Regions from separate parts of the Homo sapiens genome. Here all the other regions are linked to region 1. The links come from fine-mapping of genetic effects on gene expression. A gene starts in region 1. Each other region holds a variant in brackets. All regions are shown on one strand. Distances are from middle to middle.

Region 1 (2,763 bases):
ACAAAGACAATTTACCTTCTTCCCTTCTGGGAGCTTTGGCTATCCCAGGAGGGAGGGTCAGTGAGCCTCAAAACCAGGCATGGGTGGGAGGATGCTGAGGCTGAAGGCTGGACTCCAGCCCTCAGTCCACCATTCATTATCACCGTTAGACCTGGACAAGAGGGCACTGCCCCGGGCCCTGTGTTTTAAAAGTCCCTGCTCCTGCCCTGGCCCTCCTCTTGGGATAAAGAGTTCCAGGGTTCTACGTGGAGGTGCCCACCTGGAGCTCACAATTCCTGCCCCTCTGGACCAAGCTCAGAATACCCAGAACTCTGGAACTCCTGCCCAGGTAACCCTAACCCCACTTGGCTGGGCTCTCAGGACCCTACCCTGGATCACAAGGGCCCAAGGTGCCTGTAATTTTATCTCCAGTGGTCAGCGAAGGACTCACTGAGAAGGCGATGTTTCAGCAAAGACCTGGAGGAATGGGATGCCTCGGGGGACTCTCAGGCCCATTGACGTCCACTGTTGGGACAGGTTTCAGGGTCACAACCTCAAGCAGCAGCTGGCTGTGCCTCCTGGGCCTCTCCTGCCAGGTGCAGGGGGGCTGCAGCCATGAGGCTCCCCTGGCTCAGGTCTGGGCCCCCAAGTTCTTTGTAACGCAACTCTTTGCTCTTGGCCTTCTGGAAATAGAACCCTGCACGGTGTGAAACTGAAGCCTGGTCGAGGGCTGGCAGAGTAGGGGACCCAGGGAATAAAGTGCTCACGCCCAAACCAGGCTTGATGCCAGGGCAAAGGGGGCTCAGTGGACCCTCCATTTTACAGATAGGGAGACTGAGGCGCAGAGAGTAGACGCATCCTGCCAGAGAGTGCAGACCTGGCCTCTGTTCTGTCTCAATTACAAAGCCCCTCCTCTTTCCCTGCTGCCAGCCATACCTTTAATGGTCTCTCTCTCCATCCCCAGTCCCCTCAGTCCCCAAATCCAACTGGTCAGGTTCTGGAGGGAAACCTAGTAAGTTCTGTCTTAGCGCCCTGGCTTGTAAGTCACACTGACAAGTATAAAGCCACATGTCTATTTTGGAGGCTTACCCCCAACCCCCACCCCGCCAACAGCAGCCTCCCCGCAGCTCTTGGCCCTGGGTGGGCCCAGCTCTCCCACAGCCACCTTCCTTCCCACCAAGAAAACATGAGCAGAGCAAATTGCCTAATGAGACCCATATTTTGCTGAGTTGCTAATCAAAGAACAAACCCAACCTACCATTAATTTGGTCTTGGGAAAGAAACTTGGCCTGCAGCAGAGAAAGGAAAACAGTCAGGGGAGGGCTCCACCTGAGGTTCACGCCCCCAGCCCTGGCCAGGCCGACACAGACCCTCACACTCACCATTCTGGGGCCTCGGCTGCTACCCGTGGGCTTGCTGCTCCCAGAACCGCGTTCAGTTCCCTTTCCTCCAGCCTCAAGTCTAAAGTCTGCCAAGCTGGGTGGAGGCCCGGGTAATAAATGCTCGGCTGCCATGGAGACTGGGCCCGACGCCACCAGGGTCAGATTCCAGCTTCCTGAGCACAGCTCATGACCCGCCACCTGGGCAGGTTGGATTTTTGAGGAAATGGGGCTGCAGAAGGCTCTCCCTGGGCTCAGAGTCTCTGCCTCCAGAAGCCGAAGCAAAGGGACAAATGCCAGTGTTTCTTCCCGGGAGCCCTGGACTCCAGGAAGGGGTCTTCTCTCTCTCTCCTGGGACTCGGCGGGGATGCCATCAGGCCCCTACTAGAGTTGGACACTTTACACCCCGGGTCGTATTGAAGGCTCCTCACACACCATCTTGTAGGAGGAAGGGAACCCTTCCAAGACGGCCTAACTCAGAGATGGGCACCGGGGCTCGCAGGCTTGGGGCTCGGTATTGCAGGGATACAAGCTTCGGTGCTCTCAGGCTGGGATTCAGTCCTCCCCGTCTGCTGACTTGCTGAGTGACTGGCGAATCATTCTACCTCAGTCTGTGCCTCAGTTTCCTCACCAGCTGAATTACAGGGCAGCTGGCAAAATCAAGTGGCCAGCGCACAGCCGGTTCCCATCCTGTGCCAGTTCAGTTCCCACCTTCTGAGGACTTTAAGGGTGGTGGAGGGGCCTGAGCCGGGTCTCCAGCCCCACCACAGGCTCCTCGGGGGCTTGGAGTGAGGCCTCTTAGTGCCGGTTACCCTGGCCAGGAAGGCTCCCCTTTTCTTCCTTCCCTTCCTCTCTCCACCCTCAGCCCCACCCCTTCCGCAGAAGCTGCTGACGCTCCCAAGTCTTCAGGAGTTCGTGCTGCTCCCCTCCCCCACATAGGAGGAAATGGGGGCAGGGTGTGAGGCCTCCCCAGCTTCTTCCCCTTGAGATCCCATTTCCCTGTTTGGGGCGTGAGGCTTTTGTCCACAGCTGAGTCTATGAGGCTCTACAAGTAGGTGTGGCTGCACAGGTGTGCCCTACACAAAGGCCCCCAGCCCAGGTGCGAGTGGTTGCTGGCCAGGGGCTGCACTGCCAATAGGAAGGGGGGCATTGTGCCACTTTGCACACAGGCGCATAGACGGGAGGCGCTGCCTGTGCCCCACTCTCCCCTCCCCGCTCCTTTCCTGACCGCCTCTGTGTGGAAAGTGTGCTTTTCTCCCAAATCACATCCCCAGAATCGCTTTACACCTGTTTCTAGACCCAGAGAATTTTAGCTGGGGACTCCGACTCCTCCCTGTCAGAGTTTGAGGCTCCCCCTCCCAAACCCCATGGCAGGGATAAGAGGAGGGAAGGCTGCCTCTGTGCA
Region 2 (2,763 bases), 110 kb before region 1:
ACAGCCTTGTCAGAGATCATTTGGCTATGTATGTGTGAGGGTTTGTTTCTGGGCTCACTATTCTGTTCCATTGGTCTGTATGTCTTTATGTCAAGACCACACTGTTTTGATTACTGTAGCTTTGTAATACGTTTTGAAATAAGGAAGTGTGAGGCTTGCAGTTTTGTTCTTTTTCAAGATTGTTTTTGCTTTTGGGAGTCCCTTGAGATTTTATATCAACTTTAGGATTTTTTTTTTTTTTACTATTTTTGCAAAAGATACCATTGAGATTTTGATAAAGATTACATTAAATCTGTAGATTGCTTTGAGTATTATGGACATTTAAACAATATTGTTTTTGATTCATGAGCATTATCCTTTTTTTTATATTTTTAATTTCTTTCAGAAATGTTTTGTAGTTTTCAGTGTACATGTCTTTTGCCTCTTTGGTCAAGTTTATTCCTAAGTATTTTATCCTTCTTGATGCTACTGAAAATTGAATTGTTAAGTTCCTTTTCAGTGTGTTCATTGTTTGTGTATGGAAACAGGACTCATTTTTTGTGTGTCGATTTTGTATCCTGCAGTTTTCCTGTTTGTTTCTTAGTTCTAATATTTTTTTTCTTTTGCATGAAACTTTTAGAGTTTTCTACATACGTCATGTCATCTGTGAACAGAGATTAATTTTACTTCTTTTTAAATTTGAATGCCTTTCATTTTTTTGTGTGTGTGTAATTGCTCTGGCTAGTACTTCTAGTACTATGTTGAGTAGAAGTGGCAAGAATTGCCTTGTTCCTGATCTTAGAGGAAAAGCTTTCAGTCATTCACCATTGAATGTGATGTTAGTGGTGGGTTTTTCATATATGGTCTTCATTATGTTGAGATAGTTTCCTTCCATTCCTAGTTGAGTGTTTTTTATCATGAAATGTTGTTGAAACTTGTCAAATGTCTTTTCTACATCCATTCAGATGATCATGTAGTTTTTTTCATTCTGTTAATGTGGTGTATTATATTGAATTTCATACACTGAACCATCCTTGCATTCCAGGAATAAACCCCACTTGATCATTATGTAAAACCCTTTTCATATGCTATTGAATTTGAAGTGTAGATATTCTTTTCTTGTTCCTTAAGAAAAGCATCTTGTCTTTCACCATTAAGTATAATGTTAGCTGTGGATTCTTTCATAGATGCCCTTCCTGTTGAGTTTTTTAATTATAAAAGCATGTTGTAATTAATTAATTAATTTATTTATTTATTTTTGAGACGGAGTTTTACTCTTGTCACCCAGGCTGGA[G/A]TGCAATGGCATGATCTCAGTTCACTGCAACCTCTGCCTCCTCAGTTCAAGTGATTCTTCTGCCTCAGCCTCCCAAGTAGCTGGGACTACAGGCACGCACCACCACGCCCATCTAATTTTTGTATTTTTATTAAATGCGGGGTTTCCCCACATTGGCCAGGCTGGTGTCGAACTCCTGAGCTCAGGTGATCTACCTGCCTCGGCCTCCCAAAGTGCTGGGATTACAGGTGTGAGCCACCGTGCCCAGCCTGCATGTTGTAATTTATTAAATGCTTTTTCAACATCTGATGAGATGATTGTATAGTTTTTCCCATTATTCTATTAATATGGTGTCTAACACTGATTGCTTTTCATATATTAAACCAGTAGCTGTTGGATTTTGTCTGATTCCAGATGACCTATGCTACCTCCTAGAGGAGTAAATAACATTTTCCACTTCTGACATTTGTGGGGTTTTTTAATCAATTCTGAATTTTATTTTTGTTTACATGAGTATAGGGCTCTAATTTTATTTTTTTCCCAAAACTTCCTTTGAATATTATTCTAGATCTTACTCTGTTCCACTGGTCTAATTGTATACTTTTCTGCTAACATGGAATTATTGTATAGTTGACCCTTGAACAACAAGGGGATTGGGATGCCACCTTTGCAACACACACAGTCAAAAATTCACATGTAACTTTTGACTCCTCCAAAACTTTACTATAACCTATTGTTTACCAGAAGCCTTACCAATAACATAAACAGTTGATTAACACGTATTTTGTATATGTATGTATTGTGTACTGTATTCTTACAGCAAAGTAAGCTAGAGAAAAGAAACTGTTACTAAGAAAATCATAAGGAAAGAAAATATATTTACTATTAAGTGGATCATTATAAAGGTTTTCATACTTGTTATGTTTGCATTAAGTAGGCTAAAGGGGAGGAGTAATAGGAGGATTTTCATCTTGCTGTCTAAGAGGTGACAGAGGTGGAAGAAAATCTGTGTATAAATGGACCCACACAGTTAAAATCTGTGTTGTTCAAGGGTCAATTGTACTTAATTTTTTGATTGTTTTTAAATTTTTAAATAGATAATACATTGATGTACAAAACTCAAAAGTTACAAAAGGGTTTGCAATGAAAAGGAAGTCCCTCTTTCACCCTTATTTCAGTCACAGGTGTTGCTTTCAGTTCTTTTTATATTTTTACTGGGGTAGCTGCTGCACCTACAAACAAACATATTTGCCTCATTCTTTTTTAGCAGCTACTTAGTAGGCAATAGATTCGTTGGATTCTGTGTTATTAAATATTCCCCTGTTGGTCAACATTTGGGTAGTTTCTTGCTGTTGAAAACATTGCTGTAGAGAATATTCTGTGATATATATCACTATGCACTTGTCTAAATATAGCCAGTAGTTTTATAATTCCTAGAAATAGAAAGTGCATCTAAATATTTTTTGTAGATGTTGCCAAATTTCCCTCTAGAGAAAGGTGTGTTTGCTAAT
Region 3 (2,500 bases), 290 kb before region 1:
AAAATTAAGTCACTTCAGCTAAAGACTACAGCCTAACAAAATCCTTAACAGACGCTTGTTAGTCCTGTTGCTGGGAAGTATTTGTCCAGCAGACCTGGAACAGTTTAAAAAAGGAGTGGGGGTTTGGTTAACATTAAAGAAACACAAAGATTTTTCATCTGGCTCTGGGGGAGACCAGAGCCACAGAGGGAACAAGAAAAGAAAGAGGGGATTGAACATTTTTGCAAACAAATGATAAAACTGCCTTTTAAAGAAGGAGGGGGGATCCCTTGTCCAAACAAGACTTCTGCCAGGGTAGGAAATCATTTCTGCAATTGTTTACAATGCTCAGGCAGCCGGTCCTAAGTCAACATGGCCTGGGAGCGTTGCCCTGGAGCCTCCTGCCTTTGCCAGCCGCCTGCCATCTCGAGCTCAGCTATTTCTGGGACTTAGCTCCCTCCCTTGAAAAACAAACCGTGGCCCTCACTGTCATACCCAATAAACCCCCCAGTTTGTGCAGCCTTAATCATGTTTTCCAGAAGAGTTCTCCAACTGACGGCCTGGATGCAATGTGTTGGGCTCAGGAGAGCCAGTATGTGTGGGGGAAGGGAAGCTCTCATTTGTGGATGCCAAGATGGAAATTTCCATTGCAGTACAAGATGGCTTCACCTGTGGCCAAGGAAACCTACTTCATCTCAAAGAGGAGAACTTGGCTAATGAACAGCCTGAAATTTATGTCCTTTCTTACAGTTTGTTCCATAAACCCAGAGCAAAGTTTGCTTTTACTAAAAAGCACCATAATTACTAGTCATAACCCTTCACATCTGGTTGTCACTTAGTGTAGAAGTCTTTTCACTTCTGTTATCTCATTTGTTCTCCACCATGAGAAAGGCATTATTAGTCCCATTTATTTACCTTTTTTGAAAAAAAAAAAAAAAAAAAAAAAAGATGAGATCTCACTATGTTTCTCAGGCTGGTCTTGAGCTCCTAAGCTCAAGTGATCCTCCTGTCTTGGCCTCTCAAAGTGCTAGGATTACAGGTGTGGACCACTGTACCCAGTCAATCCCATTTATTTAATTAATCCATCTATTTGTCTCCTTATTTGGTGTTAATAATACAGTCATGTGGCTTGAAAATTTTAAATTCCAGTGAAAAGATGTCTTCTCTTCTACTCTT[C/T]CACAATTCTTCTGGTCTCTATCTGCCCACAGGTAACCACTACTGTTCATTTTTCTGTGTATCTCTCCAGAGATGCTTTATGTATATCTAAGCAACTTGGGGTGGTACAAGGAGAAAGAGTATTGCAGAGAGACAGAAAAGTCCCAGGCACTAGGCCTAGCTCTGTCTCCAGTTGGCTGTTTGACATTGTGCATGCTACTTTCCCTCTCTGAACCTCACTTACCTCACTTACGTCATCTGTGAAAATGAGAATAAAAGCTAACATTCATTAGGCTTATATGTGCCTGCCACTGTGATAAGTGTTTTTATATGTGTTAGTTGAATTAAGCTCGCTACAGTCCTATAAGGAGGCACTGTAAGTCCCATTTATCCATGACAAACTGAGGCACAGAGAAATTAAATATCTTGCCCAGGTCCTAGTTAATTAGAGGGAGAGCCTGGGTTTTATGAAGCTAGGTAGTCTAACAGTAGAGCTCATTCACCACTTAAACCCCTGCGCTATATACGGCCACTCATTTATGATACTGGCACTACCAAATGATGGCTTGAAACAGGAGGCTGCCCCAGAGTGGTTCCTCCCAATTTAGGTATCTAAAATCCTATGTCCAGTTCCCATAAAACCCTGGCCAGGCAGCTCTGAGTCACTCAGCCCCATTCAGATGGGATGGTGACAGCTGGCAAAGAGCAGCAGACAGCAGGGCAAGGCTCAGGCATGAACCCTGATGTCAGACCAGTGCTTCCCCCTGTGTCCCTCCAGGGGAATCAGGACAACTCCTTAATAAGAATTTCTTATTTTTTATCAGAGGTAGTAACGCACGTAATTTAAAAAGCCAACTCATATTCAGAGACAAAAGACAGCAGCCCAGAACAAACACTTTTAACTCCTTTGGTTAGTTCTGTATATATTTATCTCCCTTATTCTTGTCAACCTTAAATAATATTCAGAAAGTATGATTAAATATAGAGTTCATTTGAGCCCAAAGCTTGAGGATGGCCACCCAGGAACATGGATTCAAGTTGCCCTGAATATACATTCTAATTAGCAGCACCTACAAATGGGTTTTTAAAGGGAAAAAAAGAAGAGGCAGTTCCTAAGTTGTTTAACAAGAATTTACATTAAAGTAACATAAGCTATTAATTGGTTATACATTGTTCTTTGTATCACAAATTCTAGGAACATGAAGATAATGGGTGAGGCCAGCTAGTCAGGAACAAAATGCCTTTAAACAATTGCCCCCAGGGCATGGGCGGGATGCAGAGGTGGGGGTGAGGGATGAGAGTAGGGGCCTGACTGAAGTCCCAGGTCTCTCTGAGCCAAGTAAATTTTGCATACCTCTCATAGCTT
Region 4 (2,500 bases), 80 kb after region 1:
TAAACTATTTTTCTTTGAAGTCATTTGTGCCTATTTTTGTTTTTAATTATATCTGTTTTTTTAGTGGAGGTATATCATATCTAGTAAAGTACATGAATCTTGTGTACAATACTGTACAATGAATTTTTAATATGTTTACATCCATCTAGTCACTCTCTAGATCAATGTGTAGAACACTTTATCACTCTAAAAGTTTCCCTTGTGCCCCTTCTCAGTTTCCTCCCTTTCCTTGCCAGAGGTAATGATTATTTTGACTTCTGATAGGGTTTGGCTATGTCCCACCCAAATCTTATCTTGAATTCCCACGTGTTGTGGGAGGGACCTGGTGGGAGGCAACTGAATCATGGAAGCAGGTCTTTCCCGTGCTGTTCTCTTGATAGTAAGTGTCACGGGATCTGATGATTGTAAGGGGGAGATTCCCTGCACAAGCTCACTTTGCCTGCTGCCATCCATGTAAGATGTGACTTGCTGCTCCTTGCCTTCTGCCATGATTGTGAAGCCTCCCCACCCATGTGGAACTGTAAGTCCAGTAAACCTCTTTCTTTTGTAAGTTGCCCAGTTTCGGGTATGCCTTTATCAGCAGCGTGAAAATGGACTAATACAGCTTCTGTCACCACAGATTAGTTTTGCCTGTACTTGAACTTCCTATAAGCAGAATTATGTAGTATGTACTCTTTTTGTTTGGCTTTTTTCGCTTAACACAGTGTCTTTGAGATTCATCCATGTACTTGCATGTATCAGTAGTTTCTTTTTTTAATGATGTGTGGTATTCCGTTGCATAAATATACTACAGTTTATCCATTTCCTATTAATTAATATTTTGGTTGTTTCCAGTGTTTGACTGTTATGAATAAAACTGCAGTGAACATTTGTGTATGTTGTTTGGTGGACATTTGCATTTAGTTATCTGGTATATATCAAGGAGTGGAATTGCTGGGTCATCAGGTAGGTGTATGTTTAACTAACAGATATTGCCAAATAGTTTCCCCAAAGTTCAACAACCAAATTACATTCCTACTTGCAGTTTCCACCAGCAATGAGAATGTCAGTTGCCACATCTTGCTCAACACTTATTATTGCCCTGTCAGTCTTGTTAAATTTAGCTATTCTGCTGGGTGTGTATATTGGTAAACTGGTTTTAATTTGCATTTCCCTGTTAACTAATTATCTTGAGCATCTTTTCATATGCTTATGGGCCATTTGGATATCTTTTGTGAAGTATACTTGTTCAGTCTTTTTTTTTTTTTCTTAAATTGAGTAGAGACAGGATCTTGCTGTGTCGCGCAGGCTGGTCTTGAACTCTTAGGTTCAAACAGTCCTCTTCTTA[G/GC]CCCCCCCGCAGTGCTGGGATTACAGGTGTGAGCCACTGCACCTGGCCACTTAATCGCTTTGTTTATAATGTTTTTTGATGAATGGAAGTTCTGGTTTTAATGAAATCCAATAAATACTTTCTTTTTCTTTAACGGTTAATGCTTTTTTTTTTTTTTGGTATTCTGTTCCAGAAATTGTGATCAACACTAAATTCATTAAGAATAGTCTATGGCTTTTTTTTTATTTTGAGAAGCTTTTCACACTATAGGTCTATACTGTGTCTCTAATTTTTGTATGTACTGTGAGGTAGGAATCAAGGTTAATTATTTTCCATATAGATTATCTTGTTGCTCCATAACTATTTATTAAAAAGACCATGTTTTCTACCTGAATTTCACTGGAGCCTTTGTCAGAAATCAAGGGATTCTGTATGTGTGAATCTATTTCTGGAGTTTTTTTTTTTTTTGGTCTGTTGATAATATTATTCTGTCCCCGTGCCAGCACTTATTTTAATTACTGTAGTTTGTCCTCTAACTTTATTTTTCTTGAAGATTATCTTGGTTGTTTGCATTTCCATATTCTTTTTTGAATTGGCCTGTCAGTTCTTTCTTTCTCTCCTTCCCATTTTAGAGAGAGGTTCTCGCACTGTTGCTCAGGCAAGAGTGCAGTGGCCTGATCATGGCTCATTGTAGCCTCGACCTCTTGGACTCACACACACACACACACACACACATATACCACACAACCTGCTAGGATTTTCATTTGGTTTATATCGAATCTATAGATCATTTTGAGGGAGAATCGACATCTTAACATTATAGAGTCTTCTGGATCATGAACATGGAATATTTTCCCATTTATTTAGATTTACTTATCTCAGGAGTGTTTTGTAGTTTTCAGTGTAGAAGTCTTGTGCATTTTTCATTAGATTTATTACTATTTATTGGTATTTTCTGATGCTGTTGCAAGTGTTATTTTTTGACAATAAATAAATGTTTATTGAACTTTACATAATCATGACAATAAAAACATAACAAAAAAATAACAAAAGTGAATTTTAATTAAACTGAATTGTTTGCAAAACATATAGTTGGCATCACTGATGTAGTGTCTTATTTTCTTGATTCATTCTTTTTTTTGAGATGGAGTTTTGCTCTTGTCACCCAGGCTGGATTGCAATGGTGCAATCTCA

Which allele goes with the higher level. Positions count from the first base shown, and alleles are read on the strand shown. Sizes are in standard deviations (SD) of each study's normalised expression. Not every link is listed here.
With allele G in place of A in region 2, the expression in cerebellar hemisphere of the gene that starts at base 1,449 in region 1 is lower (large effect, 0.82 SD a copy in GTEx).
For the expression in monocytes of the gene that starts at base 1,449 in region 1, allele T in region 3 goes with a lower level than allele C (large effect, 1.1 SD a copy in CEDAR).

What was found. PIP is the estimated chance that this variant, and not a neighbour inherited with it, causes the effect. A credible set is the group of variants that fine-mapping cannot tell apart.
Region 2: its variant is the best candidate, but not a certain one, in a credible set for the expression of CALML4 in cerebellar hemisphere (GTEx, PIP 0.52).
Region 3: its variant is the best candidate, but not a certain one, in a credible set for the expression of CALML4 in monocytes (CEDAR, PIP 0.59).
Region 4: its variant is the best candidate, but not a certain one, in a credible set for the expression of CALML4 in lung (TOPMed, PIP 0.51).

What each region holds. Positions count from the first base shown.
Region 1 is chr15:68,203,884-68,206,646 of GRCh38, forward strand. It overlaps CALML4 (calmodulin like 4), which reads right to left and starts at 1,449. Exons shown (of 5, transcript NM_033429.3): 1 at 1,362-1,449; 2 at 1,238-1,268. The coding sequence starts at 1,364. RefSeq lists an enhancer at 2,148-2,442.
Region 2 is chr15:68,096,211-68,098,973 of GRCh38, forward strand. All of the region lies in intron 2 of PIAS1 (protein inhibitor of activated STAT 1), which reads left to right. Among named protein-coding and RNA genes, the nearest start is that of PIAS1, 43 kb to the left of the region's middle. The variant G/A (reference allele first, on the strand shown) is at 1,274.
Region 3 is chr15:67,915,419-67,917,918 of GRCh38, forward strand. No RefSeq gene overlaps it. Among named protein-coding and RNA genes, the nearest start is that of RNU6-1, 77 kb to the left of the region's middle. The variant C/T (reference allele first, on the strand shown) is at 1,156.
Region 4 is chr15:68,284,458-68,286,957 of GRCh38, forward strand. All of the region lies in intron 1 of FEM1B (fem-1 homolog B), which reads left to right. Among named protein-coding and RNA genes, the nearest start is that of FEM1B, 8.0 kb to the left of the region's middle. RefSeq lists an enhancer at 1,031-1,532. The variant G/GC (reference allele first, on the strand shown) is at 1,328.